Regions from separate parts of the Homo sapiens genome. Here region 1 is linked to region 2. The links come from fine-mapping of genetic effects on gene expression. A gene starts in region 2. The other region holds a variant in brackets. All regions are shown on one strand. Distances are from middle to middle. Region 1 overlaps SETDB1 (SET domain bifurcated histone lysine methyltransferase 1). Region 2 holds the start of CTSS (cathepsin S).

Region 1 (4,382 bases), 200 kb after region 2:
TTTTAATGTTAAATGCTGTTTCAAGTTATTCACATCATTGTTTCCTTCTACTAAAGTAGAGAAACAAGAATTGATTTTAAGTATCTCTTTGATGATTATGCTGCTTTCCACATTACAGATGGTGAAACTGTCCCTGGTTGATGTAATCCTGCTCGTGGTGTTTTCCATGAGCATTAAGCCCCATCACTGAGAAGGCTTAAAGGCTCCAGCCAGGGAGTGTAGTGAGGATTTCTGTCAAGTTGCAGAGTGGTTTACCCACCCCACTTTAGAATGTGTACCTGTCACTGGCTGATGTTATCTGTGGAGGTCATTTGAAGTCTGATTATTGGACTTGTTACCCGAGGCTGTGAAAGCATTTAACCCTTCACTTGTTCTTTTCCAGGACACTGACGACCGAAACAAGATGTCAGTGTAAGTGCCTTTTGTTTTGTTTTGTTTTGAGACAGAGTCTTGCTTTGTCACCCAGGCTGGAGTGCAGTGGCGTAATCTCAGCTCATTGCAACCTCCCCCTCCCAGGCTCAAGAGATTCTCCCACCTCAGCCTCCCTAGTAGCTGGGACTACGGGTGTGCACCACCATGCCTGGCTAGTTTTTGTATTTTTTGTAGACACGGGGTTTCACCATGTTTCCCAGACTGGTCTTGAACTCCTGGGCTCAAGCGATGCTCCCAAAGGGGATCCTCAGCCTCCCAAAGTGCTGGGATTACAGCCATGAGCTACCGTGTCCAGCCCAGTGCCTGTCTTTTTGACCTGTCTCCAAATCTGCCTTCTCTCAAACCTAGGCTAGAAGCCTAAGAAACAGCCAGTAACCTGTTGGCTTCATTCCTTCCCCTCCCATTAGAGTTACTGAAAGCTCTCGAAATTACGGTTACAATCCTTCTCCTGTGAAGCCTGAAGGACTTCGCCGCCCACCTAGTAAGACTAGTATGCATCAAAGCCGAAGACTCATGGCTTCTGCTCAGTCCAACCCTGATGTAAGTCACCTCAAGCTTATTCAGAGTCTAATAAAGGAAAATGGGCCATTGTCACCTCATCAAGTCCTTCACTATAATTACTGTTAGGTCTTCTCCTACTTCTTTAGCCTTGACTTCCTGCCTTATTTTCTTTCATCCAGCATCTAATCTTCCTCTTGCCACCGCCCTTTCCTGCCAAACCGTGGGTAACAGCAAGGACTTAAAGGAGCCCTTCCCATTTACTTCTCTTACTTCTTACCCTCCTGCTTCCCCAGGATGTCCTGACACTGTCCAGCAGCACAGAAAGTGAGGGGGAAAGTGGGACCAGCCGAAAGCCCACTGCTGGTCAGACTTCGGCTACAGCGGTTGACAGTGATGATATCCAGACCATATCCTCTGGCTCTGAAGGGGATGACTTTGAGGACAAGAAGAACATGACTGGTAGCCTGGAAAAATTTTGGGAATGGTGGGAAGAAATAGTAAGAAACTTGGGATAGAGCATTTTTTAAGGAAGCTAAAGAAGTAGTGGGTAAAAATTCAGATCCTAAGAATTGGAGCATCTCTGGGAGGGCTTTCTGACTCCAAGCTAAACTATTGTTTGACACATCCTCTCTCATTTCCATTTTTTTACTCTTTCCCCTCAGCTCCTTTGTCTAGCAGATCTAATTATGCTTGAAAAAAAAACCTGCTACTTAGGATCTTTGAGTTCCAGCTTATTGGTGTTTCTCAGCTGCAATGTTGGGAGAGAAATAGGGGTAGAATGTCCATTCATGATAGAATGTCTGTTCATGAGTTGGGATGGGTCCTGACCCCATTCTCCCTCCTGTCCAGGTCCAATGAAGCGTCAAGTGGCAGTAAAATCAACCCGAGGCTTTGCTCTTAAATCAACCCATGGGATTGCAATTAAATCAACCAACATGGCCTCTGTGGACAAGGGGGAGAGCGCACCTGTTCGTAAGAACACACGCCAATTCTATGATGGCGAGGAGTCTTGCTACATCATTGATGCCAAGCTTGAAGGCAACCTGGGCCGCTACCTCAACGTGAGACCCCTCTCCCCACCTCTAGATGCTGGATTATCCCATGGTCCTCAGATTTCTTTTAACATACTCTATAAGCCCTTTTCTTGTTATAAACTCTTGATCTCAAAGGATCTTAAAGAGGTAGCTTTCTTTCAAAGCATCTATTATAATGGGGAGGGTCAGATGGCATCATTTTTCTTCCAACTCTCACTCTCCCTGCAAAGCCAGGTTCAGTTTCCCTGGTTCTTATTTGATCCTGTCCTTAAACCTACAGCACAGTTGCAGCCCCAACCTGTTTGTCCAGAATGTCTTCGTGGATACCCATGATCTTCGCTTCCCCTGGGTGGCCTTCTTTGCCAGCAAGTAAGGAGTCAGGAAAGGGGATGACTGGGGAGGGGCAAGGACCACTGAAGTTCTAAGGGCCCCTCCTCCATTCATGATCCAACTCCACCTACATATTCAGTAACCCCAAGTGCCTGGGTTATCTGCTGTCTTTGCCACACACCATCCTTTTCTTCCTCTTCAGAAGAATCCGGGCTGGGACAGAACTTACTTGGGACTACAACTACGAGGTGGGCAGTGTGGAAGGCAAGGAGCTACTCTGTTGCTGTGGGGCCATTGAATGCAGAGGACGTCTTCTTTAGAGGACAGCCTTCTTCCCAACCCTTCTTGAACTGTCGTTTCCTCAGGAACTGGGTCTTCCTGA[T/C]TGTTGAACCCTGACCCGAAGTCTCTGGGCTAGCTACTCCCCCCAGCTCCTAGTTGATAGAAATGGGGGTTCTGGACCAGATGATCCCTTCCAATGTGGTGCTAGCAGGCAGGATCCCTTCTCCACCTCCAAAGGCCCTAAAGGGTGGGGAGAGATCACCACTCTAACCTCGGCCTGACATCCCTCCCATCCCATATTTGTCCAAGTGTTCCTGCTTCTAACAGACTTTGTTCTTAGAATGGAGCCTGTGTATCTACTATCTCCAGTTTGTATTATTTCTTGAAAGTCTTTTAACAATATGATAAAACTAAGATTGTGGTTTTGTTTCTCTCTCTCAGCCCGATACTCCCAATTCTGGATCTTTCAGTGAGGTATTATCCCCATCCTCCCCTGTGGGCTGCTGTCATTCATCTTCTACCTTGTCTACCTTTGCTTCTTGCATGTGAATTTTTTTAGATGGAGTTCTCGCTCTGTCACCCAGGCTGGAGTGCAATGGTGCAATCTCGACTCACTGCAGCCTCCGCCTCCCGGGTTCAGGTGATTCTCCTGCCTCAGCCTCCTAAGTAGCTGAGATTACAGTCGCCCGCCACCACACCCAGCTAGATGTATTTTTAGTAGAGATGGGGTTTCGCCATGTTGGCCAGGCTGGTCTCAAACTCCTGACCTCTAGTGATCCACCCTCCTTGGCCCCTCAAAGTGCTCAAATTACATGCATGTGAAATTTAAAAAAGAAAATATTACATAACTGCAAGGAAGGCATAAGAAAGACTCTCTTCGTTTATTTAGTTGATCCCCCTTCTCAATTCCTAATAGTCTGACACTTATTGCCATGTTTTATTTAATATTTTTTATTTAATCTTTTAATTTTTAAAAAAAACCCATTAACAGTACATTTTGGTCTAAAATGGTCCCTCTGCTGAAATGCTAGGTGCTAGCCGTAATTCTGGCTTTAAAACCAAAACCCCAAATATTTAATAAATAAAAATTAGAATTAGTTGCCATTCTACTCCAAACCAGCTAGCCTAGCTGAAGAGAAGAGGGAAGGGGGAAGAGGCCAGAGAAAGGAGGAGGCAGTCAGATCTTAGACCTGTCGCTACAGGGACAGCTGAAAGAAGTAGCACTAAGAAAGATCATCCGAGCAGTCCCCAGTACAGCCCCCACTTTTTGGCAGAGGTAGGGTAAGGGTTATGTGCACCCTCCTCCTACCCTCAATTCATTTGTGTCATAGAGGGAGAAAGTTAAAAGCTCAGCTTTGGTTTCTGGCCCAAGTTAGGGAGCTTAGAAAGGTTAGCCTTGGTCCAGCTTTGGCAGAATGAGGCCCACAGATGGGACAATAAGGCACAACCCTGGCTCTGGAGGTCAGGGAGTCAAAGGCAAACAGCTGGGGCCAAATTCTCAGAATAAGGAATGTGAATTGTAACCCCTACCCACAGAGAGCTGAGGGAGGGCCTCAAAAGCAGTAGAAAGGATGACTTGGCGGGTAGGGAGGAAAATACGACCGTCCCCCTCTAACAGAATATAACCAACGTCCCCCTACCTGGGGATAGGCTGGTTAGAATTTGGTTTAAAGGCAACTGGGTGACAAGCAAGGAGGGAGGATGCAGAGAACTCTCCTCTCACTTTCTCCTTTTTCCCCAGAGCTTAAAGTGACCCTATAGCGCAGGGAGCGGGGTAGTTCCTTGGCTTTATGCATTAATCTGGGA
Region 2 (4,394 bases):
ATGTCAAAATTACTGAAAGGGTAGATTTTAAATGTTCTTATCACAATGAAAGGATAAGTATGTGAGGTGCTGAATAGGTTAATTAGCCTAATTTAATCATTCTGCAATGTATATTTGTATCATAACATCACATTGTACTCCATAAATAGACACAATTATTATTTAATTATAAATAAATAAAAATAAAACTTAGAGTGTATGACCTAAGAGTGTCATTTTTATACAAAATAATATGTCAAATAAATAAATATATGATGCTAGCTTACAAACAGAAATATTACATAGTTACAGGACTTAGTTATTTAAAGCAGTAGGGTTAAGGTCTTAACATCAGCAAGTGTGCTTTGAAATAAAAACAAAAGTACAAAATGGGAAGTGATAGTCAAGAAACAATATCTGGCCACACTATGTGGGTATTAACGCCTTTTCGCTCCTCAGCCATCCCAAATGTGGCCCTTCCTCAGGAGCTTGTGCTGATTTGCCCTTGGCCTGAGACCTTCACTCTATTATGTATTTTGCTTGCTCCCTGGCTTCCATCAATTCTCTGCTCAAATGGCACCCTTATCCGTGAGGCCTTCCCTAACCCTCCTGTCATATAGATAGACTTCTTACCACCACCACCACCCAGGGCCCTTCCTACTCTCCATGCCTTCTGTTATTTTTATCTACAACACTTATCACCATCTAGCATACTACATATCTGCTTGTTTATTTTCTTATTTCCTGTCTCTCTCACTATAATATAAGCTCCATAACAGGAATTTTGTTTTGATTCCTGCTGTATGGTACCAAGAACAGTATCTGGCAAGAAACAAGTACATAATATTTATTTATTTATTTTTGAGATGGAGTCTCACTCTGTCACCCAGGCTGGAATGCAATGGCACAATCTTGGCTCACTGCAACCTCCGCCTTCCCGGCTCAAGTGATTCTCTTGCCTCAGCCTCCCGAGTAGCTGGGATTACAGGCGCCCACCACCACATCCAGCTAATTTTTGTATTTTTAGTAGAGATGGGGTTTCGCCATGTTGGCTAGGCTGGTCTCGAACTCCTGACCTCAGGTGATCCGCTCACCTTGGCCTTCCAAAGGGCTAGGATTACAGGCGCGAGCCACCACACCCAGCTTAAATATTTACTGAAAACACTGCCTGTAAGAACACAATTTTAAGAGGTAGAAAACAGTACTCCTTTAAAAGCATATCGCTCGAGTGGCAATCCAATCTACCTTTTCCTTGTATTGTTTGCCATAGGTTTTCTTCCAGAGATGCCAGTGGTGATCCAGGGTAGGATCTTTATGCAACTGTGCCACTGCAGAGGAGCACACCAAGAGCACACAAACCAGCCGTTTCATTCTGTGTAAGGAAAGGTAACATAGGAAGTGTTGCTATTAGCTGCATATGTTGTGACCACATGTTTTCATAAGAGAAAATAACAATGCAAAGTCTATCAAAGGGACAGACTATTATAAACAGAATTATACAGGAAAATTCCTGGGATATATAGTCACAGGGAACAGCTGCAGATTTATGTCAGAAATACTACTTCCAATGCTTAGTAGCACTTTAAAAAGTGATTTCCAGGAATTTCCCAATATCTGGTAAACCAAACACATCTAGAGGGTTAGAAAACAGGGACTTTCCAGGATTTGCCAACAAATCTAATCAAAGGAAATCTCTTTCTCTCTCTCTCAAAAAAAAAAAAAAATCATCCTTAAGAGAGACAAACCTCTGAAAAATCAGTTTATCTCCTGAATTTTTGAATACATGGGCTCTTCTTAACTGACCTGTTTAAATATCCACAGTCTTTACAGATAGTTAAAAGACAATTCTCATCTATTGCTTTCACATCTTTAGGTAGGTAATTTTCCTTTTTACGTTTTTTTTTTTTTAATGATCAGACATCTGTTTCAAATGAGGCAATTAACTACTCTTTAAAATGCCACTTCTGTATTTAATTCAAGAGACATCAACAGAAATTCAGCGACTAGCTCCCTCAAACTGGATTCTACTTTCTTTTCCATTTCTTTTTAATTGAAAACATCTGGAATTTTAAACATGTAAGCCTTTAAATTATATTCCAAAGAAAGCCATGTTTCAGTCTCAACTTAGATGCTTAGATGCTCAAGCAGACATTAACTTTTTAAAAATAGAGAAGAGGCAAATTGAACGACACGATTTTTTAGTTTACTTCCTGAAACCAAAGATTTAAAACCTAGCAGGCAGAACAAGTTACAAACACAGAGTGTTTGAAGACCAAATGGGAGAAAAAGAACAAAGAGTACATACGTGATAGAACCAGCAGTTGCTCCCACAGTAAGAGTCCTTGAATTAGTGGGCTCTCTTCTAAGATTTCAAAGCAACAAGGAGATTTCAGTTCAATTGACTTGAAAAGAAATTGGAACTTGTCACATGAGGTACTCAAAATGAGGAAGTGAACTTTCATTTCAGTTTCATTTAAAATCTAGCTAGTACAGTCACCTCTAGTCATTTCCCTATGGTCTTGGGGACAAAGTGGATACAGTAAGCCATCAAGAAGAGCCCTTGTCTGAGCCCAGTGGCTCATGCCTATAATCCCAGCACTTTGGGAGGCTGAGGCGGGAGGATCACTTGAGGCCAGGAGTTCAAGACCAGCCTAGGCAATATAGTGAGACCCTGTCTCTGCAAAAAAATTTTTTTTAATTAGCTGGGCATGGTGGTGCATGCTTGTAGTCCCAGCTGAGGGGGAGGGTGAGGTGGGAGAATTGCTTGAGTCTAGGAGGACAAGGCTGCAGTGAGCCATGATTATGCCACTGTGTTTCAGCCTGGATGACATATCAAGACCCTATCTCAAAAAAAAAATTAAATTGAATTTTAAAAACACCAACTTTTACATGGAAAACATTTAGTTATAAAGAGATTTAGATAAAGCTCCCCAAATCCCAGCTCCTTGTATGATTTCCTAGGAAAACCTGTCTTACTGCTTTTAACACAACTCATTCATGATCTGATATTGTCTGGTTCTCACTCAGCCATTCCTTCGTTCATCAAACTCAAAATGTCTTTATTAATATATACTATATGTATAGTTTAGTAATATGCGTGTGTGTGTGTGTGTGTGTGTGTATGTGTTAGTATATTCATGGAAAAAAGGATACACTCAAATATATCCAATTGAGAATGATTACCTGGGTGGGGTGGGAGCAAGACGAACTATCATCTTTTAAATTTGCATTTTCCTAATTACTAATGAGGTTGAGGATCTTTTCACACATTTATTGACCGTTTGAATTTTCTGTGAATTTCCTGTTCATCTTTTTTGCTCATTTTTCTATTGTATTGTTGCATTTTCTTAGTGATTTGTGGGAGGTGTGTGTGTGTGTGTGTGTTGTGTGTTTTCCGAGACGGAGTCGTGCTTTGTCTCCCATGCTGGAGTGCATTGGTGCGATCTTGGCTCACTGCAACATCCACCTCCCAGGTTCAAGCGATTCTCTGCCTCAGACTCCCAAGTAGCTGGGATTACAGGCACCTGCCAGCATGTCCAGCTAATTTTTGTATTTTTAGTAGAGACAGGGTTTCACCATCTTGGCCAGGCTGGTCTTGAACTCTTCACCTCGTGATCCACCCGCCTCAGCCTCCCAAAGTGCTGGGATTACAGGTGTGAGCCACCGTGCCCGGCCAAGGTGTATGTGTTTTAAAAATATATTCTGGCTTCTAATCTTTGACAGTTATATACCCTTAAAAACATCCTCCCTTAGTCTTCCACTTGTCTTTTATTTTATTTTTTCTTCCTTTGCATAAGCCTATGAAATTCCACTTGTCCTTTAGTCTTGTTTATAGTGAGTTTTTCTATATGAAATTTTTTTATGTTGAGGTAGAACATTTTATTCAGCTTTTCCGTATAATCAATCTATACTGTTTTTGTATAAGAAAATTTTCCTCATCCAAATGTAATAAAGATACACTCATCTTATTTTTATACTTTCAGAGAGTGTTTTATTTATCTTTTCTATGGCTACTGCTTTTAGGTGTTTAATTCACCTGGAATTTAGTTTTGTGTATGGTATGACGTAGGGAGCTTATTTTCTTTGTTTTCCAATTTTGATTCTACCTCTATTGTACACCAAATTCTCATACATAGATAGGTCAGTTTCTGAGCTCATGAAGCTGTTCTTTTTATCTTTTGCTACTTCAGTATCACACAGTTTTAATTAAAACAGCTTTGTAATATGTCTCCACGTATGGTAAGGCAAGTCATCTAGGCCACCCTATCTTTGTTCTTCTTTTTAAACATTGTCTTTGTATTTTGTACTTGTTAACTCTTCTTTATATGAATTTTTTGAATCAGTTTATCAAGTTCCCTGAAAAACTCTGTTGGAGTTTTTTGCTTTTTTCTTTTGGAGACAGGGTTTCATTCTGT

Evidence for each region. PIP is the estimated chance that this variant, and not a neighbour inherited with it, causes the effect.
Region 1: its variant is the best candidate, but not a certain one, in a credible set for the expression of CTSS in whole blood (TOPMed, PIP 0.56).

The regions. Positions count from the first base shown.
Region 1 is chr1:150,961,748-150,966,129 of GRCh38, forward strand. SETDB1 (SET domain bifurcated histone lysine methyltransferase 1) reads left to right here. Exons shown (of 22, transcript NM_001366418.1): 17 at 383-411; 18 at 840-972; 19 at 1,227-1,392; 20 at 1,783-1,994; 21 at 2,248-2,336; 22 at 2,500-2,990. The coding sequence ends at 2,617. It overlaps CERS2 (ceramide synthase 2), which reads right to left. Exons shown (of 11, transcript NM_022075.5): 11 at 3,439-4,382. Among named protein-coding and RNA genes, the nearest start is that of CERS2, 11 kb to the right of the region's middle. RefSeq lists enhancers at 3,034-3,178, 3,671-3,815 and cis regulatory regions at 3,106, 3,742. The variant T/C (reference allele first, on the strand shown) is at 2,680.
Region 2 is chr1:150,763,414-150,767,807 of GRCh38, forward strand. CTSS (cathepsin S) reads right to left here and starts at 2,365. Exons shown (of 8, transcript NM_004079.5): 1 at 2,285-2,365; 2 at 1,225-1,351. The coding sequence starts at 1,350. RefSeq lists enhancers at 455-544, 1,256-1,305, 2,236-2,380, 2,239-2,383 and cis regulatory regions at 2,308, 2,311.